Homo sapiens: one gene and its partners. The protein of the gene in region 1 purifies or fractionates together with the protein of each later gene. This does not show direct contact. Each region holds a gene or a part of one and is shown in the gene's direction. Other genes may lie near its edges.

Region 1 (3,500 bases):
AGAAGGAAGAGAGCTGGGGAGGCTGGCAAAGCTGGTGCAGTGGGCGGGTACTGAGCCTGCACCAGGAGGTGGGCGGGTGAGGATGGTGGCGCGGGGCCGGGCAGCAGTTGGAATTCCTTTGAGGATAGTTTCAGGACACAAGCATGGCCCCTACAGATGCCTGCCAAGGCAGAATAGAGACTCCCCCCACCAAAGGCGGGGCCGGTCCCCGTTCTAGCCCCCTACCCAGGGTTGGCTGTGGCCCCTCAGCCCCTCAGGCTGTGGCCCCTGGGGGCTGGGCTTTCGACACAAGGAGGGCTCTGCCCAGCAGTGACCACCTGCCCACCCCCAGCACCTGGCCACATTCATCATGGACAAGAGCGAAGCCATCACGTCTGTGGACGACGCCATCCGGAAGCTGGTGCAGCTGAGCTCCAAGGAGAAGATCTGGACCCAGGAGATGCTGCTGCAGGTGAACGACCAGTCGCTGCGGCTGCTGGACATCGAGTCACAGGTGGGGCCCAGCGCCACGGGGGACAGGGAGCACAGTGGGTAGAGGCGGTGGCAGCCACCGGCTGCAGCCCGGATGTGCGGCCGGTCCTCTCTGCAGGGCCGGCCATGCCCTATCATTCTGGTCCCTGGAAGAGGATGGGACAAGGGTGGGCAGAGGGCCGCATAGAGCTGAGAGTCCAGGGAAGTTTGGAAGCCGGGGTCAGCCTTGCGGTACAGCTGCGGGGTGTGTCCCGGGCCTAGTCCTCATCTTTGGGAGCCCATTCCCCAGCGGCGCCAGAGGGGCCTGTGCTCCAGGCTTGTCCACAGCTCCGGCCACTCCCTGCCAGAGTGCCCAGACCCCGGGTGCGAGTCGTGTCCGCGCGATGTACCCGCAGGAGGAGCTGGAAGACTTCCCGCTGCCCACGGTGCAGCGCAGCCAGACGGTCCTCAACCAGCTGCGCTACCCGTCTGTGCTGCTGCTCGTGTGCCAGGACTCGGAGCAGAGCAAGCCGGATGTCCACTTCTTCCACTGCGATGAGGTGGAGGTGAGGCGGTGCCGGGCGGGGCAGGGTGGGGCCCCGCCGCGCCGCGCCCCGCCCTCCTGGCCGCCTGACGCCCGCTTTCCCAGGCAGAGCTGGTGCACGAGGACATCGAGAGCGCGTTGGCCGACTGCCGGCTGGGCAAGAAGATGCGGCCGCAGACCCTGAAGTAGGGCAGCGGGCGGAGCGGGGTCGCAGGGGGCGGGGAGGGGAGGAGCCCGGCAGGGGAGGGGAGGAGCCGGCAGGGGAGGGGAGGAGCCCGGCAGGGAGGGAGGGTCAGGTGCGTTCCCGGCGGGGCTGAGCAGGACCCCCTCGCCCTCCAGGGGACACCAGGAGAAGATTCGGCAGCGGCAGTCCATCCTGCCTCCTCCCCAGGGCCCGGCGCCCATCCCCTTCCAGCACCGCGGCGGGGATTCCCCGGAGGCCAAGAATCGCGTGGGCCCGCAGGTGCCACTCAGCGAGCCAGGTGGGCCGAGGGGCTGGAGGGGGCTCCACAGGGCTCGTTGTGGGGGGCTCGGTGAGCAGCCGCCGTGTCCCCCATCAGGTTTCCGCCGTCGGGAGTCGCAGGAGGAGCCGCGGGCCGTGCTGGCTCAGAAGATAGAGAAGGAGACGGTGGGTGCCCGGGCCCGGCAGGTGGCCCCTCTCTTCCCCGCCCCCAGCAGTGGACACTGGTCCTTGCTGTCCCTCCGGCCAGTCCCCAGCCTGTGGCTGCCCCTCCGAAGGTGTGGGGCCCAGCTCCTCCCATCATCTGTGGGGCTGTCCCTGCAGCAAGGCGGGGCGGTGGGGAGTGTCAGGGGCTGACCCCTGACCCCCTCTGACCCCAGCAAATCCTCAACTGCGCCCTGGACGACATCGAGTGGTTTGTGGCCCGGCTGCAGAAGGCAGCCGAGGCTTTCAAGCAGCTGAACCAGCGGAAAAAGGGGAAGAAGAAGGGCAAGAAGGCGCCAGCAGGTGCAGGGGACAGGGACGGGGCCGGCAGGTGCAGGGGACGGGGCCAGCAGGTGCAGGGGACAGGGACGGGGACGGGGCCAGGGACATCCATGGGGGCTACTCATGGAGGTGGAGGAAGGTCCAGCCCACACAGATGGGCTGCGTGGGACAGAAGGCGCAGGGGCCGGGGAGATCAGGGCCAGCCTGGCTCACGCGGTGCCTCCCATGCCAGAGGGCGTCCTCACACTGCGGGCACGGCCCCCCTCTGAGGGCGAGTTCATCGACTGCTTCCAGAAAATCAAGCTGGCGATTAACTTGCTGGTGGGTCCGGTGGCCCCAGCCCTGCCCCACTGTCTGTGCTGAGGGGAGGGTGGAGGCCCCGCCCCGCCCCGGCACCTGCTCACTTGTTCCCACCCCCAGGCAAAGCTGCAGAAGCACATCCAGAACCCCAGCGCCGCGGAGCTCGTGCACTTCCTCTTCGGGCCTCTGGACCTGGTGCCTGGGGCCGGGCGGCAGGGGCGCGCAGGGTGGGGGCCCAGAGGCCTCTGCAGCATCTCCCCGGGGTCGGGGTTGGGGCAGCAGGTGCCCGCCTTGGGCAGCCCGGTTCACGCTGTGTGGCCACTCTCCCTGGGGTCCAAAGTCCCTTCCCGAGGGCCAGCCTGTGGAGCTACGGGGGTGCTGGGCCAGGGTCTGTGGGCCTCAGTCCCCTCTGAACCTCACTGTGCCCCAGATCGTCAACACCTGCAGTGGCCCAGACATCGCACGCTCCGTCTCCTGCCCACTGCTCTCCCGAGATGCCGTGGACTTCCTGCGCGGCCACCTGGTCCCTAAGGAGATGTCGCTGTGGGAGTCACTGGGAGAGAGCTGGATGCGGCCCCGGTAGGGCAGGGCAGAGCAGTGCCGGGGCTTCATGGGGGGCCAGCGCTGCATGGGGGCCAGCAAGGGGGTCCTGGTGGGCCAGTTCTGGAGAGGCAGGGCTGACTTCAGGACCTCTCACCCCAGTTCCGAGTGGCCGCGGGAGCCACAGGTGCCCCTCTACGTGCCCAAGTTCCACAGCGGCTGGGAGCCTCCTGTGGATGTGCTGCAGGAGGCCCCCTGGGAGGTGGAGGGGCTGGCGTCTGCCCCCATCGAGGAGGTGAGAGCACCAGCAGCCCCCATCCCTACCCCAGCCCCAACACCCACTCCTCACCAGAGCTCCCCCCCAGCCCTGACACCCACCCCTCCCCAGAGCTCCCCCCCCAGCCCTGACACCCACCCCTCCCCAGTGCTCCCCTCCCCAGCCCCGACACCCACCCCTCCCCAGAGCTCCCCTCCCCGGCCCCGACACCCACCCCTCCCCAGAGCTCCCCTCCCCAGCCCACCTCCACCCACCGCCCCTTCAGCCACAGCTCAGCTGCCCCTAGCCCCTGCCAGGAGAGGCAACCCATGCTGGCATCACCGGGCATCAGGCTCCATCACCCTCAGTGATGCATCAGTCACAGGACATTAGCCCAGCCCCTGTCATATGCCCCCTCGTCCTGGGACCCAGCCCCGCCCCATGTCTAACTCAGGTCGCCCACC
Region 2 (3,500 bases), on another chromosome or scaffold:
AGCGTCCAAGGCCTGCAGCAGCCTGTCTTCCCCAGCCACCAGCCCCTGACACTGCCTGGGGATGTTCCCACAGGATCCATAAAGGCCTCTGTGGAAGGCGGGCAGTGGCGGGCTCTGGGTGACGGTGGTTCAGCCACCTTTGTCTGTCGACTTCTAGCTGGGCAGCTCCTTCTCTGTGGTCAGGGTAGCCCTGTGGCTGACGCTGCAGTCATTGGGCTGAAGCTGTTCCCTGAGTCCCCAAAGTTGCCCTGCATCTGCGCCTCTGGCTAGGCTGCCCCAAACTACCTGGGGTAGTGGGGGGCAGCTGTGGTGGTGACACAGCTACCCCTGCAGAAAACCTGTGGAGCGCCTACCTGGAGAAGGGTGACATCGTGGAGAAGCATGGGCTGCCCTCCGCAGATGCCCCGAGCCTGAAGGAGAGCCTGCCTCTGTACGTGGTCGCTGACATCGCCACATCCTTCACCGTGCTGGTCGGCATCTTCTTCCCTTCTGTAACAGGTGAGCCCTGCCTGCCTACCCACCCAGCCCTGTCCCCAATCCCGGGGAGCCCCTGAGGGAGTCTCATCTGTTTTTGGAGGCATCATGGCTGGCTCAAACCGCTCTGGGGACCTTCGTGACGCCCAGAAGTCTATCCCTGTGGGGACCATTCTGGCCATCATTACAACTTCCCTCGTGTGTATCCTTTCCCAGGCCTGGGGCAGGTGGGGCAGAGGACGGGAAGCGCTTGGCCTGTGTACGTTGCCAGGTCACATGCACAGACACCCCACACACTCATATATAGCTCCCCTTCTCATGCACACATGCACATACACACCACGAGACTCCCAGCTGTAGGTGTCCTGGTAGTCTGGCTGGGGTGGGGGCACGTGGTACTATTCAGGGACAGTGGGGTGGCAGAGGCCGAGTTTTCCTTGACGCCGCCGCAGACTTCAGCAGTGTGGTTCTCTTTGGTGCCTGCATTGAGGGTGTGGTTCTCCGGGACAAGTGAGTGAGCTGGGCCCCCCTCTTTAGCAGCGGCTGGGCTTTGGCCTGCCCTCACACCAGCTCCCAACCCCGTGGGTGGTCCTAAGCCTGCTGGCTGCCTTTGGTGGTCTGTGCCATCCTTCCGGACCCCTGACATCCCTCACTCTGGTGGCCCCTGCAGGTATGGCGATGGTGTCAGCAGGAACTTGGTGGTGGGCACACTGGCCTGGCCTTCACCCTGGGTCATCGTCATCGGCTCCTTCTTTTCAACGTGTGGCGCTGGCCTCCAGAGCCTCACAGGGGCACCACGCCTATTGCAGGCCATTGCCAAGGACAACATCATCCCCTTCCTCCGGGTGAGCCCCTCTGCACTCCCCCATGGCCTGGCTGCTCCCAGGCCCTCGCCCGGCTGGGGAGAGAGATAGGGAACACAGATGCAGCACGTCCTGCCCTTATTGGCCCCCGGGGCCAGGCGGCCATCCATGAGGAGCTACTGAGAAGTGCCCTGGGCCTGGCACTCACCTGGGCCTGGAGCTGCCTGGACCCAGAATCTTCATGGCCTGTTTAGGGCTCATCCAAAGGAGAGAGGCCTGGTGAGGTGGAATCAGGGAGACTGGTGACACCCATAGGGATAGACACAGGGGCGGCCTGAGCCCCCAAGGCGGGCCCTGGGGGTGAGGGAGGCCAGGCTGGGGTCTGGGGCCCAAGGTGTGGAATGGGGGTGACAGGACCCAGCTTCCTTCCTGGTGCACACAGGTGTTTGGCCACGGGAAGGTGAATGGTGAACCCACATGGGCACTCCTCCTGACGGCACTCATCGCCGAGCTGGGCATCCTCATCGCCTCCCTCGACATGGTGGCCCCCATCTTATCCATGTGAGCTGGGGCCGGGCAGGGCAGGGGGATGGGGAAAGGCTTCCTGAACCCCAGCACCTCCCCGTGGCTGCGTCTGGTGTTGGAGGTCCAGCTGGGAGATGTGGCAGGCTGCATGGGGAGATGTGGCCTGACAGGGCTCAGCCCACCCCTGCATTTAGGAGCAAGCCTGGCACCTATGCCAAAGCTATAAGGTGACCAATATGTCCACACCTCCCTGAGGCCCCCAGAGCAGGTGGCCGGCAGACCTTCCCACTGGACAGGGCAACCACCGCGTCCCTCATGCCTCCATGAAGCCACTGCTGCCCCTTCCATCTGTTAGTTTGTTTTTTGGTTTTTGTTTTTTTTTTTTGAGACAGAGTCTCACTCTCTCACCCAGGCTGGAGTGCAATGGCATGATCTTGGCTCACTGCAATCTCCGCCTCCTGGGTTCAAGCAATTCTCCTGCCTCAGCCTCCTGAGTAGCTGGGATTACAGAAATGCACCACCACGCCCAGCTAATTTTTTGTATTTTTAGTAGAGATGGCGTTTTACCATCTTGGCCAGGCTGGTGTCGAACTCCTGACGTCAGATGATCCACCTGGCTCGGCCTCCCAAAGTGCTGGGATTACAGGCGTGAGCCACCATGCCCAACCCATCCATTTTCAAAGTCATTTGCTTTTAACATTCTGGAATCAGCCAGGCAAATCTGCGTGCCAGTGCCTTGCAGGGAGTGGCCAGCATGTGGTGACTCCCAGGGACCCCGAGGCAGCGCTTGTTTGGTTGACTCTGTCCAGGCTGGGGTCCTCGCCCACCCTGCTCCGTGGCTGACGCTCCTTCTTGCTTGTGCGGTTATGAAAGGCCTCCTCTTCCCTGCCCACTCAGCCTGCAGACTTGACAGGGGCCCTGTACCCCTGAGCAGGCTCCATCCCAGCTACAGCCAGGCCTGCTGGAGCCAGCACCCTCTTGTCCACCCCCCCACACCCCTTCCTCTCACCCAAGAGCACACCTGAAACTGTTTTGCCACAGCCATCTTGGGTGGTGACCCCCCTTGTGCCCAAATCAGAGGCTACATCTCAGCCTTTATCTCGGGCCTCCTGCTGGGAGCCCCTGCCCCCTGGCATGCCCTGTGTGGGTCCTCCTGCCTTCCTGCGCACCCGTCCTCGGGTGCCTTCCTGGAGGGCTCATGCAGCTGGCCCTGCCCATGCGTGGGACTCCCACGCCCACCGCAGTGACTCTTAAGTATCTCTGACTGGTTGCATTCAAATGGTCCAGCTTATCTTCCATCCTCCCCTTCATGCATGGCAGCCTCTCATCCAGCTGGTCACTCAGGCCAGAGGCCTGAATGTGGCCTAGAGTCTCCAGGCACTGAGCTCTTCCTGCTGCCCCTGCACCACCCTCTTCAGCTCTGCCCTGTTACTCCCCTTCCTACCTCCTCCAACAGCAAACCCTTGCCCATCCTCTGCGATCTGGCTCCGAGGACTCCTCCACAGTAGTCTCATTGCCTCAGGCCATGGAGGTGGCAGCAATGAGGTTGAGAAGACCTTGCTGAGCCATGCAGGGCAGGGCCGGGCCACGCCCCGTTTCTGGGCCAGGCCCAGCCTGACATCAGGTCCCCAGCTGCCGAGGAGGCTGCTCTTCGCCAACCGCCCTCTGTGCCGCAGGTTCTTTCTGATGTGCTACCTG
Region 3 (4,094 bases), on another chromosome or scaffold:
TGAGCCACCGCGCCCAGCCAGAAGTTAATTCTTTAATAGCAGTGTAAGTAGGGGGTAGGAAAAGAGAAACTTTAATGGGGTAACTGTAAAGGAAAAGACGAAGAAGTCTCTCCATTTACTGGCTGGATTCTATCTACCCCATATGGCTACCAACATTTGTCTGAGTCATTTCCTCAATGGTTGTGACAGCTCCCTCTTCTGCTTTTAGAAGGAGGAAGTAGAAAGTTTAAGAGCTTACTTTAGACCACCTTTTGCATATAGAATTCATTTCATTTTCAAGGCCCCAAGGGTATTTAAATGGGCTTTAAACCCATTTAAACCTGGCTTTCGCCTGGGCATTTTGGTCTCCACCCCTATGATAAGACAGTCCCCTCCTTTTATCAGGGATAGAAGCTAAGGATAAACTGTATCATCATCTAGACTCAAGTCAGGGCGTTAAGCAATGTGCTGAGCAGCTAATAATGTTGACTCTCTTCCCTCCATCCCCCTATCTTGTAAGAAATAGTATACCCACTTTACAGATTAGGGACTTGACGATAGGATTTATTGAACTTGACCTTGGTAAACATAATCCAGAGGGTGGAGTTCAGACAAAATCCCTTTCTACCTACCAACCAGCCTATGAAAGATCTTTTAGTAAATGGGACCTAAACTTCAGGCTCACTGCTCCTCTCACTTTCACAATCAACCGGTAAAGAAGAAAAGTAATGGTTGCCACTCCAGAGGGGGTGGAAGTACAGAAGCGATCAGAGGAGAGGAACAATCTTTAACACAGTTGGCTTAACGCAGTGCCTGTCCGTTTCGCGACAGTTCAAACGACTACTATGGGGCCACGGTTTGTTCTGGGCCAGGAAACACACGTGCATCCTGCGCATGCGTCCAAAAGGAACCCACTGCCCCTCCTGCTGGACCTCTTTAGCCAAGTCATCAACCAGCCCTCAACATGCCCGCCCTCAAGACTAAACCCTCGGCCAATCGGGAAACCGGAGTCGCCCGGCACGTCACTTATTTTGCATATGCCCTCCTCTCCCCGCCCCCATGCTTGGACTCCGCCCCGTCTGGGTCAGGGATTGTCACCTAAGAGCTTCGTCCTGGCACCTGATTGGCTCTCTTTCCAGCTCCGCCTCCATCTCCTCCCGCCGCCCGCCCCTTGGCGATCCCACAGCGGCAGGCAGAGCAAAATACGCAGGCGCAGGCGCTTCCTCTCTCTTCTAGCGGCCCGCCCTCCCTCCTCCCTCTCCCTCCCCTCCCCACTCCCTTCCCCTCCTCTCCAGGCCTGCGCGCGCGCCTCTTCCTCCGGCACGCGCCGCTGCTAGCCGAGCACTCTCGCCAGAACCTCTGGCTCGCGCGTGCCTTTTCCCCTCAGGTTGTGGGGAGAGCGGAATCCTGCTCCGCCGTCGCAGCAGCAGCGGCAGCCCCGGCAGCCTCGGGCGACAGCGGCGGCGCGCGAGCCCCCGGGCGGACCGTACCACCGCTCGCCAGCACGCAGGGGGAGCCGCCCGTCTCGCCGCGCACGCCTCGGCGACCCCGCGGGGCTGAGGCGTCGCCGCGCCCGGCAGCGTGAGCGCAGAGCCGGCCTCGACCCCGAGCTCGGAGCCCCGCGGGCCGCGCCCGCCGCCGGCCCCACCCATCCGGGTCGAGGAGGCCGAGGCCATGGCTGAGACGGAGGAGCGGAGCCTGGACAACTTCTTTGCCAAGAGGGACAAGAAGAAGAAGAAGGAGCGGAGCAACCGGGCGGCGAGTGCCGCGGGCGCAGCGGGCAGCGCCGGCGGAAGCAGTGGAGCCGCGGGTGCGGCGGGCGGCGGGGCGGGCGCGGGGACCCGGCCGGGTGACGGCGGGACCGCCAGCGCGGGGGCTGCGGGCCCAGGGGCCGCCACCAAGGCTGTGACGAAGGTGAGGGGCCGGGAGGCCGGCACTCGGGGCCCGGGCCGCGCGCCGGCGCCCCATGTGCCCGCCCCCGCCTGCCGGGGAAGCGTCCGGGAGGGGCCGCGGAGGCCGGGCGGACGGGCGCGGGCCGCCACGTGACGCAGGCTCTCCACCTCGGGCTGGGCTCGCCAGGGCCGGGACCCCTTCCGATATCCGCGGTGGAGCCGCCCTTCCCACCCCGCGTCGCTCGGCGTTAGCCAAGGCCCGGGCGGCGCCACCCTCCGGGGGCACTAGGTCTGGGGCCGCAGTGCCCAGCACAGAGCAGCGTTTATCGGGTGACGTCTAGGCTGAGTAATTCCGTGTGCTGACCTCAGCCCAGTAGTTTGAGCTGAATTTTCGCTTTCAGCAGCCGCATTTGTAGCAGCTCTTTTGTGATGACTTAGTCTCTAAGCCCGTGAAAGAAAAAGAAAACTCTCGGTGGCAAGGTTGAAGTAGAAATGTAGTTGTGAAATTCCTATTGACTTCTTCCTTCGGCTTTTCTTAGTTGCTTAAAGTAACAGCTCCCATGCAGGAACCCAGCGGAAGTATAGTGTTAGCCTACGAGCATGTTTGTCCTCCATTTAGCCTAGTTTGCCCCAGAACGAAGCAAGGGCTTTGACCAGAAGACAAGTACATACTTAGTTTAGGTTCCAGCCACTTGATCCACTTTTCGTAGTGTGTTATTTGCTTAGTTATATGTCTACAAATAGCTTTAATTGATCAAATGGCGTTTGTTTTACAGGACGAAGATGAATGGAAAGAATTGGAGCAAAAAGAGGTTGATTACAGCGGCCTCAGGGTTCAGGCAATGCAAATAAGGTATAGTCTGGTTACAAATGTGTTTAGATAACCTTTGGGATAGATATTGGATACAAGTTAGGTTTTCCTTTGGCCCCAAAGCAGCATCATAGTAGCCTTGTGCTCTAGATATGCTTATTAGGACTCAAATGGGTTCTGTCTACTCTTTCTCACTCCATGGAGGCAGCCCTTCCGTGTGCTCATGAAATTAGCTGCTGACTCTAAAATCCTGTGAGAGCTTGCCTACTTCCAGTTCTGGTTAGGACTTTTCATTTGAGACAGCTAAAGTGGATTTTGTCGCTTCAAAATTTTTACTTTTAACATCGGTGATTGTACTTAGTTTTGGTTTCAAAAGTAATGTGGATGTTTTTCACATCCTCTCCAATAAGCAAGTGAATATATGTTTTTGTAATTGAAGTATATCATACTTACAGAGAGATAGAGGTTTTATGTGTTCACACAGTGCAACCAACCTGTGCAATAAGCACCAGGTCAAGAAACTGAGTATTACTGATACAGAACAAGGTTCCCCTCCTAACACATACTCACTGCATTCACCTTCAACATAACCACTATTCTAACACCATAATTTTTTCTAAAACTTCATAGGAATGGAATTATATTTGTAAACATGTTATTTTTTAAAGTTCAAAAAAATAGTAATTTTTAAAAATTGGGTAGTTTAGAAGATTTGAAATTAACATTTTGTCAAGTCCAGTCTATGGCAGTCAACTTTAAGGTTGATGTTAAGTAAGTGCTATATTTTGGAGGGTTCATAAAGTAGGAAAAAACAAATGAAGATATGGTTCTGCTGTAAGATGAAAAAATCCTTTGCTCCCGGTTTAAAGAAATAAAGGATCTTGATAAACTGTCTCCAGTTTGAAGGTTGCATTTTATAGGCAATGCCAGTGAGTGCGAGGCACAGTGGAGGAAATACTTTCCTTAACTGAAAACTGTCTTTTGACTTCTCTGGATGTTAGTATCTATAGCTTTAGATAACTTACTCAAAAAGCAGGGTTAATATTATTGACATTTGTTGAACACCTACCACAGCTAGGCATTAATGTCCTACTGTGAAAACATCATTTTGTGAGCTTAACCAAAGTGAAACCCCCAGATTGATAATGGGAAACTTTCAGGAACGATGGCTTCTCCACTCTTGAGATTTCTTTGTAGTGGTGTTGAGTAGAAGTGATTAGACTTGAGTTTGATTCCCAACCACTTGTTGGCTTCCTTAATGTGTCTTTCTCTTTTCTGTCTCCTGGGGCTTGACCTGTAAATAATGGGGAGGAGGGAATGTGAGGTTCTTACCATTTGGTGTTGTGGAACTGCCTGTGTGTGTGGCTCCGGTTCTGTTGTAAAGTTTGGCTCTTCTTAAGTCTTTTCTTTCC
Region 4 (3,500 bases), on another chromosome or scaffold:
GATCCCTATTATCTATAGTTAAGGAGTTTGGATTTTAACTCCCTACCCCAGCACATACACAAGAGAATTCATAATGAATTCTCTTGTGGAAGAGATCCCTGACAAAGGCAATATCAGTAAGAATAAATTAGAGGCATTTCTGAGATAGGGTCATTAAATTCATTTTTTTTCTTCTTTTCTGGGAGCCTCATAGAAGGGTTGGTTAAGTTAACATTAGGACTTTGGGCTGGGGAGAATCATTGGGTGGTGATGACTTTCATGCTGTCAGAGGCAAAGTCGAGGAATAGGTATTTCAGAATGAATGTCAAGTTTGGATTGTGGTGACTATATCTAGTAGACAGTTCATTGAAAAGATATTGTACTTCCTATATTGGAGAAAAGTTGAAGTCTTAGGAGTTGGTGAGGTGATCTGTGCAAGTGAGATGAGGAACCAAGAATGGAACCTGGCCCCTCCATTTTTGTTGAAGGGTTGAATAGAGAAGGAAAACCCAAATGAAAAACAGAGAACAAATGACAGAGATAAGAACAGATCGGGAGAGAGTGGTGACATCGAAGGACCAAGGTGAAGAGTTTTGAGAAGTAAGGCATTGGGAAACAATGTCAAATGTTGTAGGACTATTCAGACAGAGTAAGAACTGAAAGAGGTGAGTGGGAACCTTCGTAAGAATAGTAGAAGAGATGGGGGCATAGGCCAGATTGTAATGGATTGATTTGATGAGGAATTGAGGGAATAGAGATATCCAGGAGAGATTACTCTTCCAGGACTTTTTTTTTTTTTTTTTTTACAAAGGCATGGAAGGGATGCAGTGCTATCAGTCAAAGGCAGTAGGACTGAGGAGAGTTTTGTGGTGTATGTTTTCTTGCTTGTTTAGAAGATCAAGAAGATGAGCTCTTTCTAGTTGGAGGAAGAGAAGAGATTTGAAAATAAAGAGAGTGAATGTAGCTAGAGGGGTGAAGACCTGGAGGAAATACTATGTAGTAAATAGATGGAGATAATTATCTGGCCAGGTCAGCTTTGGAAAGGTGGTTACTCCTTTCTTGAGGTGCCACTAAAGAAAGGAAGGTTGTATGCTAAAAGTTAGAGAGCTTGCATGGGATAGAAGGCTTATGAAGAGAGTTAAAGGTATGAGGCTGACTGCTAAGTTGAGGATTGCTGATGAATTATTATTTTATTGCTCTTCAGGTTATGCTAGTGTTTCCAGTTTTGTTTTCAGTTTTTACTTTTTTACTTTTCCCTGAATAAGCTATGGCTGGAATCATCCAAAGATGCATTGTTTGAAGTAGGATGGCAGAGGAATAGGTATGACAGAATTGAGCATGCAGGTGGCAGTGACACTGAATTGCTTAGCCATATGTCCCAGGCTCTATAGTGAAGAAAGTCAGTTCCATTGAGAGCTAATAGAGTAGAAGATTAGAGAGGGATTGAGGGACTAGAGGCTTTTTCTTGGGAGCGGGGGCGGGGTGGCGGACTAGAGGCTTTTAAGAAGAAAAGATTGTGTTTGATAGAGCTAGAGGAGAAAGGCATTAAAGTGAAAGGGGAAGGAGGTTGAGCGGAGAATGAGATTTATACATTTAATATTCTAGAGACACTCATTCTGGCCTAGTCCAGGATTTATCCATGGTAGTAATTCGTTTAAATTGACTACAGGTGAAAGTGGCTTGGTAGAGTAAAGATCCAAGAACTTTAAGGCTGGAGTGTTAGATGGTGCCTGGTGGTGAATATGGAAACTCTCCAGAATGAGGTGAGAGGGAGAGAGATGAGAGATGCCAAAGGCTGCTATGAGTTCTAGTCTGTTATGAATTCCAGAGCTTCATTTCTTAAAGGTCTGGGAATAATAGTGGTAAGGTAAAGAATGTATAGTATAGCTCAGTGTGTCTCACCCCTTTTCATGTCATGGCATTCACAGAAGGTATTTCAGTGGGGCCTTGGAGGTAGATGGAGAAGATTGCTTGTAGTCAGAGTCCACTGGCCCTGAGGCTCCTGCTGCCCCAGAACATTACTAGCTGCCCCAAGAATTGAGGGGAATGATATTTTGGTGTATCTACAATGCATTTTAATCTCATTGTTTGAGAAGCCCTGGTATAGCTGAGTGAACTAAACCTCTTTTTTTTAAAAAAGAGAGATTATTTGGAAAGGATAGGAGAACACTGATTCAGAACTATCATTGTGATGTTGAAAGAATGCTGACCCAAACAGGTCCTGAGATTTGGATGTGAAATGTACCCAAGAGAGGGCCATACAGGAGAAGCTGGGTGATTCTTAGGGCCTGGTTTGTGTAAAACGTTGATTACATTGATGGGGATTGTTTTGCAGTGAGCAGGTCTATGCATATGTACCCCCAGAGGCCAGGGGATCTGAGAGGCCAGAGAAAGAGGCTGGCAAATCCAGTTCTCAGAAAGAAACTAAATTTATATAGGGACTTAGAAACAGAAGCTATGGCTTGGGTGGCTGCGAGATGGTGGATCCCCACACTAGCCCTCCAGAAATTATCCTTTATGTAGTGAGCTTTTTTTCTTGGTAACACTTGCACAGCTGGTCACATCTCAGACCCTCTTGTCAAACTTGTGACCATTGAGGAAGTTAGGTAAACATCTTTATGAGTTGTCATTTATGCTACAGGCATTGTTTCTTTATAAGGGTTATCTATGTTACAGGCAGTATTTCTTGACCTTGCTGCAGAAGGCCTTGCTCTGCAGGAGTCAAACATTAGTCATTATGACAGTTTTGCTTCAGGATGGTGTTACTCTTGCCACACAACACGCCCTTTTCCTACAGGGATAAATGAGGAAATGATAGGTGACAAACACTAAATTGGAGATCTTGCACATGAGACTATCTTACAGTATGATCTGGGGGTAGTCACGTTGGTGAATGGCCAAATTTAACAAGAGAAAGTAAATGGAATTAGATGGTCTTGTTCATATGGGATATAGTAGAGAAGGAAATGTGAACTAGGTGTTGAAATTACCCAAGGAGATGGAAATAAGTTCTGGTGGGCAGTGGACTACATAGACTTCAATAAAGAGAGCTAGAAGAGGGTATTGTGGTTTGGTCTGAAAATCTTTCTATCAAGTTAATGTTTATCATGAAGCACATATACTAGTATTTTTTGGGGAAAAGAACTTAAATTTCTTTTAAATTTTAATCTATCAGAACACTTTATTCATAGGTACTGGCTATTCTGGTCAACATTTTTGGAGGAATCATGCGCTGTGATGTTATTGCACAGGGTATAGTCATGGCAGTAAAAGACTTGGAAATTAAAATACCTGTTGTGGTACGGTTACAAGGTGAGTATAAAAGGTATCTTGCAGTTGTTCCTAATTCTTTAAAAGTTCACATTTCCATGGAGTTCAGTTTGTTAAAACATAGTTTTTAAATAGCTGTGTCTTTGAAAGCATTATACAATATGAAATTAAAACTATAGTTTTTAAAACATTTTAACATTGGGGCAAAATGTTTATACTTTTGCTTGGTATAATTTGATACACTTTTTATT
Region 5 (4,285 bases), on another chromosome or scaffold:
TGATCTTAGGTGATCTTCCCGCTTCGGCCTCCCAAAGTGCTGGAATTACAAGCGTGAGCCACCGCGACTGGCCTCGTGTTATTTTTCTGTCCACTCACACAGCTTTATGAGAACTTTCGGCAAAGGTTTCTGATGGATGGGCATTGTATCTTCACTGTCTTGAGATTTAGAGAAGAAACTGTTTAAGAACTACTTCCATCATGATGCATCCTCAGGAGATGTGGATGAACTGCGGAGATGTGGGGTGAAGATGAACAAGAGATGAGTGAGTTTGTGTCTCCCTCTAAAGAAAGTGGCTTTTGTCAAAATGTACTTGTAAAGAAGTGTATAGGCTGGGCAAAGTGGCTCACGCCTGTAATCCCAAAACTTCAGGAGGCTGAGGCGGAAGAATCGCTTGAGCCCAGGAGTTGGAGACCAGCCTGGGCAACACAGTTAGATCCCGTGGGTAAAAAAGTGCAAAAATTAGCATGGTGGTGCATGCCTGTAGTTCCAGCTCTTCGGGAGCCTGGGCTGCAGTGAGCCGTGATGGCCCCACCACACTCCAGCCTGGGCGAGTGAGACCCTGTCTCAAAAAAAAAAAAAAAAAAAAAGGCAATTAACCCACAATTTTCAAGGCAATTGTTATGCTTTATTACAAGAAGTGTTTGAAATGCATCCCATTTGTAGATCCCTAGAAGTAAAATAGTCACCTTTGTTTACACTCACACCAAACACAGTTTTTGGAAGAGATATCGCAGACTTCATTATTATCCCCAGATTAAAGGTCAGTTTTGAGTCTTTTTATTTTGTCTCGACCTTATTACCTTCCTAGCCAAAACATGGAAGTAAAACATCTTTTCTACGTTAATACTGCATTTCCAGGGGTCTTGGGGTGTTCCGGGGGAGGGTGAGGTCCCCTCTCTGTCATGGCGGGGTGTGGACGCGGTCGCCTTCTCCTGGCGCCGCGGTACCTAGGACAGGAGGAAGAGGCCAGGAAGGGTCCAGGGAGGCTCAGGCCGGGTCTGCGACTTGCCGGTGGGTGGCGGCAACGACCCTGTGGGCACCAGCCCGTCAGACGGCCCCAGCTCCGAGCCCGGCTGCGAGCCCTCTCCAGCCTGCAGCCGCTCCTCTCCCGGCCCTACTCCCCGCCCGGCACTGACGTCCAGCCCCGCCCGTGCAGTGAGGCCAGAGCCTGGTGTAGCCCCACGCGGGGCCGTTCCATCTTCGAAGTTTTCTGGTGACTGGGTCGGTCCCGCAATTATCTCAGATCAGGGGGGAAGCCAAGGGCAACGGGACACCCTGATGTATCAAACACCTCCCCCTGGAGCCCCATCGCGCATGCGCACCCTGGAGGCAAGCGCTCGAGGCACAGGGCGCGGCTTGGGGAGGGAGGAGGCAGGGCGGTGGTTGGGCAAGAGAAGAGCCGCGCCCACCACGGAACATCTCTGCGCATGCGCCGGGGGCCAGCTTCTGGTACTTTTGACGCGTCTGCTAACGTAGTCCCTCAGTGCGCATCCGGACGTAGGAGGTGGAGGTTGTGGAATTCGCCGTTCGAAAGCAGGGACTAAAAGCCCCACTTCGTCTTACGTTCCGAAAGGAAGGCGTCTGTTGAGCCTTTCTCTCAGTCGTGAGGGAGGCGTCGACGGCGTGCGGTAAGTTTTCTGCTGACGGGGTCTCTCAGGACCACCGCAGTGGTCTCTCAGGAGTGAGGGACGGGAAACGTGCCGGGCCCCGCGTTTGGGGAACGCAGCGTTTCGCTTCAAGGCCGCGGCCTCAGGGCGCCGAGCGGGGTTTCTAGGGCTCGGTTCCTGTCGCGGCGGTCGCCGCCCGCGCCGTGGCTCCGCCTCCCGGAGGTTCCCCGACTGTGGCTTCCGGGTGGCCAGGCGCCGGCTTCCGCGACTCGACTTGTTTTTTCTCTCTTGGTTTTTTAGGAAGTCCTGAGTTGAGGCTTGCGGGATCCTTTCCGGAGAAAGCGCAGGCTAAAGCCGCAGGTGAAGATGTCCAACTACGTGAACGACATGTGGCCGGGCTCGCCGCAGGAGAAGGATTCGCCCTCGACCTCGCGGTCGGGCGGGTCCAGCCGGCTGTCGTCGCGGTCTAGGAGCCGCTCTTTTTCCAGAAGCTCTCGGTCCCATTCCCGCGTCTCGAGCCGGTTTTCGTCCAGGAGTCGGAGGAGCAAGTCCAGGTCCCGTTCCCGAAGGCGCCACCAGCGGAAGTACAGGCGCTACTCGCGGTCATACTCGCGGAGCCGGTCGCGATCCCGCAGCCGCCGTTACCGAGAGAGGCGCTACGGGTTCACCAGGAGATACTACCGGTCTCCTTCGCGGTACCGGTCCCGGTCCCGTAGCAGGTCGCGCTCTCGGGGAAGGTCGTACTGCGGAAGGGCGTACGCGATCGCGCGGGGACAGCGCTACTACGGCTTTGGTCGCACAGTGTACCCGGAGGAGCACAGCAGATGGAGGGACAGATCCAGGACGAGGTCGCGGAGCAGAACCCCCTTTCGCTTAAGTGAAAAAGGTGGGTGGGTCATTTACCTTTCCATTTGTGGTAATGTATGGTGGCAGTATATGAGTAGGCTAGGGAACCAACGTTGCTGTGTAGTTTCAATATTAGTTCCTTTAGTGCCCGAAATCTTTTTGGAGGAAAGAGGGAGGACATTACCTGTATTTAAGTGGACAGCATTCTCTTTAGGGTTAAAGGTCAACTGGATGTTAAATGGCTCAGGATGTAGGGAACTTTTTTTCCTATTGGCTGACTGTTCTTAGTGGGTGGAGCCTTTTAAATGTTATGATTAAGTTAAAGGTTCTAAGTTAACGTGATTGGGAAGAACAATATCAAAACACGCCTTCTTTTAGTTGACATTATTACTGAATAAAATTGGATTGTCGAGTATCCTAAGTGACCTAGGAGGCCGGGCGCGGCGGCTCACCTCTGTAATCCCAGCACTTGGGGAGGCGGAGGCGGAGGCGGGTGGGTCACTTGAGGCCAGGCGTTCCATACCAGCCTGGCCAACATAGCTCACTATCTAGTAAAAGTACAAAAATTAGCCGGGGGTGGTGGTAGAAATACACTTTAGTAGTGTATCAGTATTGGTTCAGTGGTTGTGATAATTATATAAAGAATCTACAGCAGAAAAACCTGGTTTTCAGAAATACATCTTTGAAGAGAAAGCAAAATAATATCACTATTAGCTAGAGAAAATTAAGTACAACAAAAAGACAAAATAATAGGACGCTCAGGCCTTTAGTCAAGAAAACAAAACTAATTGTTGAGATAATTTAAGAATTTTATTCTTTTCAGCAAGAAATGAGCTGGAGAATAGAATTTTCAGTGAATAAAGTTACACAGTTGTCCCTCTGTTCACTCGGGGGATTGGTGCCAGGATGCATATGGAACCCTCGCGCACACTTGGGGTTTACAGTCTCTCAAACACTGTGGTACTTTCTATCTGCATTTAGTAAGGGGGAGAAAAAACAAGTATAAAGTGGACCAGCGCAGCTACTAGTGTTCAAGGGCAACCTTAGTTTACCTATTATAAAACAAGTGACTTAATATATTTAATACCACAAAATAACATATTTATTGTGTAATTCTGAGTTCTCTTGGGAAATAACTACCAGATTAATGAGTATTTTAAAATCTCTCTCTTTTTTTTTTAGATCGAATGGAGCTGTTAGAAATAGCAAAAACCAATGCAGCGAAAGCTCTAGGAACAACCAACATTGACTTGCCAGCTAGTCTCAGAACTGTTCCTTCAGCCAAAGAAACAAGCCGTGGAATAGGTGTATCAAGTAATGGTGCAAAGCCTGAAGTAAGTATTCTAGGTTTGTCGGAACAAAACTTTCAGAAAGCCAACTGTCAAATCTGATTAGCCACTTATATCTTAGACTATACTTTTTGGGAAGTCTAGAGATGTATATAATGTGCTAAATTCAAAGTAGCAAATCTGAAGATAGGCAATGTCAAACCCATGAAAATGGGAGATTAATGAGCTTTATTTGGCCGTGCATGGTGCCTCATGCCTGTAATGAGGCAGATGGCTTGAGTCCAGGAGTTCAAGACTAGCCTGGGCAATGTGGCAAAACCGCGTGTTTACAAAAAATACAAAAATTAGCCAGGCATGGTGGTGCATGCCTGTAGTCCCAGCTGTTTGGGAGGCTGAGGCAGGAGGATCTTTGAGCCTAGGATGCTAAGGTTGCAGTGAGCCAAGATGGCACCATTGCACTCTAGCCTGGGCAGCAGAGCGAGACCCTGTCTCAAAAAATACATTTATTTTTTTCATTTTCAGTTAACAGTGTACTCTTAT
Region 6 (3,500 bases), on another chromosome or scaffold:
ACCTGTTTCACACCTGTGCCCATTAAGAAAAAAAAATGGCACCCTATAAATGATTTAATAATTACTAAGGGGAAAATATAGCTTTCCATTGGAGATCTGGCAGTCACCTCTTAACCAACCTACAGTCTACATTCAGTTGGCCTGAATTCTTCACACACACAACATCTTTATCAATGAAAAATTTTTAAATAGTTTCACATCCTAGCTTAGCTTGAAAGGGAGTAAGCAGACGGCTCGATCAAATGTAATCCATGAGCAGATCCTACATCCCAAAAAATCAGAAACATTTTGTAAAAATTGGGTAACTTTTTTGTTGTTGTTGCATCGGAGTCTCCCTCTGTCGCTCAGGCTGGAGTGCATTGGAGCTATCTCCGCTCAGTGCATCCTACACCTCCCTGTGCCTCCTGGGTTCAAGCAGTTCTCCTGCCTCAGCCTCCCGAGTAGCTGGGACTACAGGCATGCGCCACTACACCTGGCTAATTTTTGTATTTTTAGTAGAGATGGGGTTTCACTATGTTGGCCAGGCTGATCTCGAACTCCTGATCTCAGGTGATCCACCTGCTTTGGCCTCCCAAAGTGCTGGGATTACATGGGTAAGTTTTAGTATGGACTCTGTATTAGATTTTTAGTAAAGTGTTGATTTTCTTTGTTGTAACAATGGTATTTAAGTTATATATTAGAATATCCTTATATTAAAGAAATGTATGCTCAGGTCCCTAGGACTGAAGTATCATGGTATCTGCAGCTGACTTTCAAATGGCTCAGGGGAAAGACAGAGATAACTCACATGTGGCAAATGTTAACCATGGGCAGGTTTAGTGAAAGGTAAAAGAGTGTCCCTTACATGTTCCTGTAGGTTTGAAATTTTTCAGATTAAAAAGTTGGAGTGAAAAACAGCTTCAAAGCAGGAAGTAAAAGTTGGAGCTGGGTTTTGCTGCGTCGCCAGGTGGAGCAGAAGAGCCTTACTGCACGGCGGAGCGTCAGGTTGCTGTCTAGTCCAGGCTCTGCCGCGGATCAGCCATGGGCGTTGGGCAGGTTACTTCCCTCTCCAGGCGTGTTTCCTAAGAAAATCACTGCAGAATGTTTTTCAGTTCTGATGCGGCTGTGATTTCAAGCGTCTCTGTTTCTCGGTCACTGAATTGGGACATGGCAACGTGGGTGTGCTTCCTCATTCACCTGGGTAGGTGTTGAGAAGTGATGAGGCCCCAGGGTGATGACTGAGGTCCCCCCACCCACCACTCTGCCTTTGCTGACACTCTTCCCTCTGCTTGAAATGGTTCTTTGTTTCCTCTTGAAAAGTCTTGCTTCCCCTTCATGACAACATCCCTTGGGTCCCCTGGGCAGAACTAAATGCCCTCCTCTTGTGACACTTTGCACGTACAGCACTTTTTCCTTTTTCTTTTTTTTTTTTTTTTGGGGAGACAGGGTCTTGCTCTGTCACCCAGGATGGAGTGCAGTGGTGCAAACACGGTTCACTGCAACCTTAACCTCCTCAGCTCAAGGGATCCTTCCACCTCAGGCTTCTGAGCAGCTGGGGCTACAGGCACCCACCACCATGCGTGGCTAACACTTTTTTATTTTGTGTAGAGACAGGATCTGTGTTGCCCAGGCTGGTCTCGAACTCCTGGGCTCAAGCTGTCCTCCCACCTTGGCCTCCCAAAGTGCTGGGATTACAGGTGTGAGCCACTGTGCCCGGCCCTTGTTTTATTTTTCAAATAAATGCAGGAAGAAAGAAAGAGAAAGCAGAGGTGGCCAGATCTCAAGTAAGTCATGCCACCCCCACCACAAAAATCCGTGGAGGCTGAGAAATACAATACCTGGCAAAACTCAGCAAACATAAAAGCCAGCAGTTATTCAAAGATATTTGTTGAGAAACCACTAGGGCCCAGTTACTAGAGCTACCGAGATGAACACTACTTTAAAAACCAAACCAAACAACCTGCCTCATGGAGGCACTTGCCCCTCAGTTCAGTGGCAAGTATGGTAAGTGTTCTGCAGAAAAGCTAAGCAGCTGAGGGGAGCGGCAGGGGCCCGAGGGTGTGCATTAGCATTCTCTTCAGTGGGTTCAGGGAGTCACCCCCGGGGGCGGTGGGGGCGGGGGGTCGGGGAGCAGTGTGAGTAGAGGCTAGAGGAAAGCACAGGAGCAAATCAGGGCCCGGAAACTGATTTCCCAACAGCCAGGGCTCAGGAGCGGGCCCTCAGTGACCTCCACAGTTGATCTGGGCCATTCCACAGACAGGACCCGACAGCCTGCTCCCACTTGGTGAGGCCTGAGGCAATTCTCCAGGCCACAGTGAGGAACCTGCCACCTTGTTTTTCTCGTTAGAAGTTAAAAGAGTAGTAGGTGATAATGACAGCTCTCCATGTGGACACGGAAGGCAGTTTCATGTAGATTCCACCCTAAGTCTTGCCTCATATGGATTTGCTGTTCATTCCAGCCAACATTGTCCTTTTTCAAGATAGTATCTGCTGGGTGCTAATCATGTTTAGTAAACTGCTCTCCTGTTTATTTCATCAGCCTTATTTGATCTCCAGCAAAGGTAAAAGAAAATGCAAAAAGATGATTCTACTTGTTTTACAGAGCTGTAAACTTACCTCCCTGAAGTCTTGTTGCTGGCAAACAATAGAGCCAGACCTGGGGCAGAGCTGGAGCTGTTGTCCACAGTGTTCTCACTTCCCCGCGCTGACTCCATGGTGAGGGCTGGCCTTAACTCTCTGTACCCAGCCTTGCTTCCCAGCACAGCACTGCTTCCTGGTGGGCACCAGCCAGCCAGACTTTCTCTAAAGTACTCTCTCTCTGTCTGCCCCTCTCCACCTTGGGAAAGACAGTGGTCAGAAAAGGGGCAGTCCAGAGAAGAGCCAAGCCATGCGGTGTCATGGCAGCCAAGGGAGAAGTTTCACACAGGAGGCGAGGAGGGCAAGAAGGAGGGCAAGAAGTCTGTGGCAAGAGCAGAATGGCGAGGCTGGGGCAGGCTGAGGGGAGACAGGGTGGGGCTGCCTGTGGGCAGAGGGGAGTTCATAGTGTGAGAGAGTTCTCCGAGAGCTGGAAGGAGAGGCCTCCAGATGGCAGGAGGCAGGGTCCTGTCCAGCAGTGTCTCTGACTTGACTCCCTGTGTGACTTGGGGGAGCCACACAATGAGAAGTGGGAATAAATGTGATAATGACCTCGTGATGGTGGTTTGAGCATTGTGTGAAGTCAGGTGAAGATGTCACCTATGTTACCAGAGCCAAGCTGCATGGCTGCAGGGGCTCTTCTGAACTAGCAAGTGATGTGCTTCAGAGAGAGACTGGAATTTGGCAAAGGAGAAAGCCCCTGTCTCCTCCTGTGTGCCGGGCCTTGTCTTGGGGCTCTGTGGGTAGACCCCAGCTCTGCTCTGCACTGGAGTGCCCAGACAGGTCTGTGTGAGCACCTCAGTGTGGGCTGCTCCGCTCCCATCCAGGAGGCTCCTTACTGATGGTTCTCAGCCCAGCTTTTAAGATTCACTTTTGTTGCTTGTATG
Region 7 (3,959 bases), on another chromosome or scaffold:
CCGCATCACTTCCTTAAGAAGAAGAAGAAGAAAAAAACAGCCAAAGAAAAAAAATCACAATAGTGATTAAACTGGTTGCTAAGAGCAAACTCCCTTTATTTTCCCAAGGAGGAGTCTGGAATTATAAGTAGAAAGGGCAAAGGAATAGGTGTAAGAAGGTGGCCCCAGGCTGTAACCGTCAAGAAGGCAAAGAATGAATAGAAGACAAGCAAGGGGAAAAACAGGCTTGACTGGGGTTTTTTTTGGGGGCTAGGCTGATAGAGCAGAATCAAGATTCTGACTTAGAAGAGCAGTCCCACCAGAGTTTGGAAGCAGTTTGCATAGTGGTTAAGAGCCTGGGTACCAGAATCACACCGCTTGGGATCCTGAGTCCCGCTCTGCCACTTACTATTTATGTAACCTCTGGCAACTTGGTTAACCTATACACCTCAGTTTTGTCACTTGTAAAATGGAGACAATAGTGTGTAACTTGTAGAGTAGCTGTGAATTAGGTAAGTTGATGCTTCAGTGCTTGGTTCATAGCAGACGCTCAGTAAAATGTTAAACTGTTATTTGTAGTTTTTATCCTTCCTCTTTCTTAATGTTGTGTACTGCAGCAGGGAGGGGGAGGGATGAAGCGCTTATCCCACTAGAAGAGTGATATTTGTGTGAGAGCCTGGGTCAGGCTTATTTTGAGACGTGGGCCCCACTGAGGTGAGGTGGCACCGCTTCCAGGGCACACCCTTTGCTCGGGCCCCGCCGTGACTATGAGGAGGCCGAGGCCACGGCTGGCAGAATGCACGGGTGGACCTCCTTGGAGTGGCTAACCCGGGGCGGCTGCACTGTTGTCCCTGGATACTTGACACTTTTCACTTTTTCTGCCTCCCGGCACTAGAATCCATGTGGGCTCACACCAGAGCCTCCCGGTTTCCGAGGCGTGAGGGCCACTTAGCGGTCATTCAGCTTCAGGGTCCGGCCCTGTCACGCTTTCGCTACAGCCTGGGAGTTCCGTTCGGACCCCACACACCGTCCTAGCCCCGGCTCCCCGCCACCCTGCCTCCCGCGCAGGCGCCGCCGGGGCCACCCCCGCCGCCATGTTTCCCCCGCCCGCGCGCTCCCCCCCCCACTGCCCCCTCCCTCCCCAACTGGGTTCCCGCCCCCCTCCCTCAGCAGCCCCCCCACACCCTGGTGAGGTCAGGCGGAGGCTCTGCCGCTGCGGCCGCAGTAGCTCAGCTCCTATTCCTGGGAAGCCTGGAACGGGGACTTTTGAAAATAACTGCAGCGGCATTCGGGTTAGGGTCCGTGCTCTCCGCCTGCGCCAGGACAGGGTGAAGTGGTCGGGGCGAGCAGAGGGTGCGAAGGTGCGGGTGCTGGTGCCTCGCAGCAGGAGGGAGCCCCGGCTGCGCCGCGCGACTCCCTCTTTGGCCCTCGGAGCGCAGCACCCGGCGGACAAGCGGCGGGACGCCAGGACGCGGCGAGCAAGGTGAGGCAGGGTCCTGAAGTCACAGGGGCTCCAGCAGCCGCTTCCCTGCCTTCGGACCCGGCGCTGCGCGGTGCGCGGCGAGGAGTTGCGATCTGTACCAGGGGCAGAGGAGCAGAGGAGCAGGGAAACAGCTTCATTTTGCCCGCCGCCCCCTCTTTTTCTCCCGCGTGCTGGTGCGCGCCCTCATCCTTACACCTTCGCATCCCTTTCTGCCGGTCCCTCTGGCTCCGTCGGACGCCTGGGTTCTTCTAGGACCCCAGAACCCGGCTTTCCTGTGCTTCTTTGTCATCTCTCCAAGATCTTCTCCTCTGGGCCTCGCTGTTGCTGCCCTGACGGTCTGGGGTCCCGCTGCCCGCCCCGGCCCTACTGTCTCTTGCCCTCTAACAGTTTCTGCTTTGTGCCTCCTAATCCATCTCTCCTTCAGAATCTTCTAACTTAGGAGGCTCCTCTGCTGGCTCCCAAGTCAGGAGCACACTCCTCTTCTTCCTCGAAGCTTTTAACTTAGCTCTGAATGTCTTCAGCTCTGAATATTTTGACTTTTTTGTTTGTTTGTTTGTTTAATTACAGTTGACTAATGATTTTCTTGGAGGCTTATAGTCTAGGCTACAGTTTACTGAAAGTGATGAGATCATTCCTTCACTAAATAGCCTTAGTAAATATCAACTAGGGAACTTTAAAGTTTCTTTCTAGGTTTCATTAACTTAGTCCAAGAACAATAGCCACTTAAAATGTATGTATATATGTTGGTACGCAATCTTCGTACATGGTCCTAAATCTGATTCTTCCCTGGCTGCTGAGCAGGCCTGAGAGAGAGGATTGGTGGGAATTGTGATGCCTGGCTCCATTTCTCTAATTGTAAACTAGGATGTTAATCGTTTTAATGTAGTCAGAGGACTTTAGTGGTTTGGGATAAAGTCGCTCAAGTTAGCATAGGCTGGTAACTAAGCACATTGAATGGAGACTAAGAGACGCTGGGATTTAAAACTGTCTCTGGAGGGCACCTGCTTTCTTTTTTTTGAAGCCACAGTTTCTTAACAGTAGATTTCATGTTTGTATAAACCCTCTAAAAGCAGCATATTTTAAAACCACGTAGTTACAAAAAAGACTACTCACTCTTAGCGATATCGCTTTCTCCCCATGTAGTTGTGGTGTTAGCTCCCATACTGAGGTTCATTTGCTCACTTTCATACTGCAATTAGTGTGTGAAGAAAGCTGAATGGAGAAGCACAAAGTGGAGGCAAATACCAGTGAACAAGCACATGCTGACATACGCAGCTGTGTTTTTGGAAATAGACTGTATCTAGTGTTCAAATTTAAAAACTGAGAAAAATGAAATAATTCAGCATTTATGACATCATTTTACATCTAAAAATATTAGCTCCCTTAACTGCAAGTTCTTATTAATATCCTCATACTTAACGGTAAAAGAGTTGTTTGCCTGATGTATGACCAAGTGTTGCCATTGACACAGTGTGCACTAATTGGCAGCAATCTCAGAAGAAACCAGGTTGTGAATGAAGATAATGGCTAAATTTCACTGTCCTGGTAGCACGTCTTATGGCAGTGAGATGAGAGTAGTTTCTGCTGCAACATCAAATGATGTATTTAAAAAACAGATAAATAAGAGCTTCAATTATTAAAAAGCCCAAGGTTTTCAATCTGCCATTTTTATAAGCACACTTCAAAAAGTGTAGTGTGATTATATAAGGCTCAGTTGATGTTCTGAAGAAAGTAGTTTTCACAAGAAAAGTAAGGCCTATTGCTTATCAATTTAGTTAGATAACTTGCAGATGATTTGTAGTTTCCCAATTGATTTGGTAAATTCCTGAGTTTACTTGAGGTTTATTAAAAAATGGAATGTAGTAGGGAAAGGGTACTTATTCTAATAGGCCCACTTTCTAAGTCTGTAATTTTCTTAGCAAACTATTCTCAAAATACATAAAAACTTACAACTTTTTCAAGGAAAAGAGTTTATACTATTTTCTTACTTTTTTCTTTTCATGCTTATTATTGATACAAAATCTAAGCTAAGATTGCTGCTAATGTGATTGCATAGTAAGACTATTTATATTTGCCAGGAAAAGAATAAAGGTGGATGAGTTAGCCATAAGCATTTTGCTCTGAATCTTCAATATGACTCAATATGTGTTTGATAGTCCATCTGGTACACCTAGAGGTTAGCAGACTGGATATTTCTGATATTACTAAATGTAACTGCACTTACTTATTGGATTATCTTCTTTCTCATTTTATGTACATTTCAAATTATGCTTCTTCATGTAATTTGACTTGCAGTAGTGAAATGAGACTGACCAATTTTCAAATTGTTTGATTTTTATTGATGTTTGATAAACCACTAAAACCTCTTGAAAATATTTTTTTCTTAAATCCACTGATTGAAACCGATGTATTTTTATTGCTATGAAATAATACAACAAATTTCCAGGAATTATTTCAGAAAATGTGGAAAGACTGTAGAGAAATGAATAGCCCTAGA

The links.
Region 2: the proteins of EPS8L2 (region 1) and SLC12A4 purify together in Homo sapiens (co-immunoprecipitation; one large-scale study listed by IntAct). This does not show direct contact.
Region 3: the proteins of EPS8L2 (region 1) and CDV3 fractionate together in Homo sapiens (co-fractionation; one large-scale study listed by BioGRID). This does not show direct contact.
Region 4: the proteins of EPS8L2 (region 1) and SUCLA2 fractionate together in Homo sapiens (co-fractionation; one large-scale study listed by BioGRID). This does not show direct contact.
Region 5: the proteins of EPS8L2 (region 1) and RSRP1 purify together in Homo sapiens (co-immunoprecipitation; one large-scale study listed by IntAct). This does not show direct contact.
Region 6: the proteins of EPS8L2 (region 1) and EVL fractionate together in Homo sapiens (co-fractionation; one large-scale study listed by BioGRID). This does not show direct contact.
Region 7: the proteins of EPS8L2 (region 1) and KLHL13 purify together in Homo sapiens (co-immunoprecipitation; one large-scale study listed by IntAct). This does not show direct contact.

What each region holds. Positions count from the first base shown.
Region 1 is NC_000011.10:719,731-723,230, forward strand, and holds part of EPS8L2 (epidermal growth factor receptor kinase substrate 8-like protein 2), read left to right. Parts: intron 1-331; coding exon 332-493; intron 494-866; coding exon 867-1,016; intron 1,017-1,099; coding exon 1,100-1,179; intron 1,180-1,333; coding exon 1,334-1,476; intron 1,477-1,554; coding exon 1,555-1,622; intron 1,623-1,834; coding exon 1,835-1,961; intron 1,962-2,172; coding exon 2,173-2,261; intron 2,262-2,360; coding exon 2,361-2,435; intron 2,436-2,670; coding exon 2,671-2,819; intron 2,820-2,942; coding exon 2,943-3,075; intron 3,076-3,500. UniProt on the Homo sapiens protein: Stimulates guanine exchange activity of SOS1. May play a role in membrane ruffling and remodeling of the actin cytoskeleton. In the cochlea, is required for stereocilia maintenance in adult hair cells.
Region 2 is NC_000016.10:67,948,138-67,951,637, reverse strand, and holds part of SLC12A4 (solute carrier family 12 member 4), read left to right. Parts: intron 1-333; coding exon 334-498; intron 499-577; coding exon 578-676; intron 677-926; coding exon 927-984; intron 985-1,144; coding exon 1,145-1,319; intron 1,320-1,719; coding exon 1,720-1,838; intron 1,839-3,478; coding exon 3,479-3,500. UniProt on the Homo sapiens protein: Mediates electroneutral potassium-chloride cotransport when activated by cell swelling. May contribute to cell volume homeostasis in single cells. May be involved in the regulation of basolateral Cl(-) exit in NaCl absorbing epithelia.
Region 3 is NC_000003.12:133,572,392-133,576,485, forward strand, and holds the start of CDV3 (protein CDV3 homolog), read left to right. Parts: upstream 1-1,294; 5' UTR 1,295-1,653; coding exon 1,654-1,893; exon of another isoform or gene 1,894-2,365; intron 2,366-2,647; coding exon 2,648-2,724; intron 2,725-4,094.
Region 4 is NC_000013.11:47,949,274-47,952,773, reverse strand, and holds part of SUCLA2 (succinate--CoA ligase [ADP-forming] subunit beta, mitochondrial precursor), read left to right. Parts: intron 1-3,170; coding exon 3,171-3,291; intron 3,292-3,500. UniProt on the Homo sapiens protein: ATP-specific succinyl-CoA synthetase functions in the citric acid cycle (TCA), coupling the hydrolysis of succinyl-CoA to the synthesis of ATP and thus represents the only step of substrate-level phosphorylation in the TCA.
Region 5 is NC_000001.11:25,244,655-25,248,939, reverse strand, and holds the start of RSRP1 (arginine/serine-rich protein 1), read left to right. Parts: upstream 1-1,485; 5' UTR 1,486-1,631; intron 1,632-1,910; 5' UTR 1,911-1,976; coding exon 1,977-2,496; intron 2,497-3,638; coding exon 3,639-3,790; exon of another isoform or gene 3,791-4,285.
Region 6 is NC_000014.9:100,071,922-100,075,421, forward strand, and holds part of EVL (ena/VASP-like protein), read left to right. Parts: intron 1-3,500. UniProt on the Homo sapiens protein: Ena/VASP proteins are actin-associated proteins involved in a range of processes dependent on cytoskeleton remodeling and cell polarity such as axon guidance and lamellipodial and filopodial dynamics in migrating cells.
Region 7 is NC_000023.11:118,114,011-118,117,969, reverse strand, and holds the start of KLHL13 (kelch-like protein 13), read left to right. Parts: upstream 1-1,159; 5' UTR 1,160-1,462; intron 1,463-3,959. UniProt on the Homo sapiens protein: Substrate-specific adapter of a BCR (BTB-CUL3-RBX1) E3 ubiquitin-protein ligase complex required for mitotic progression and cytokinesis.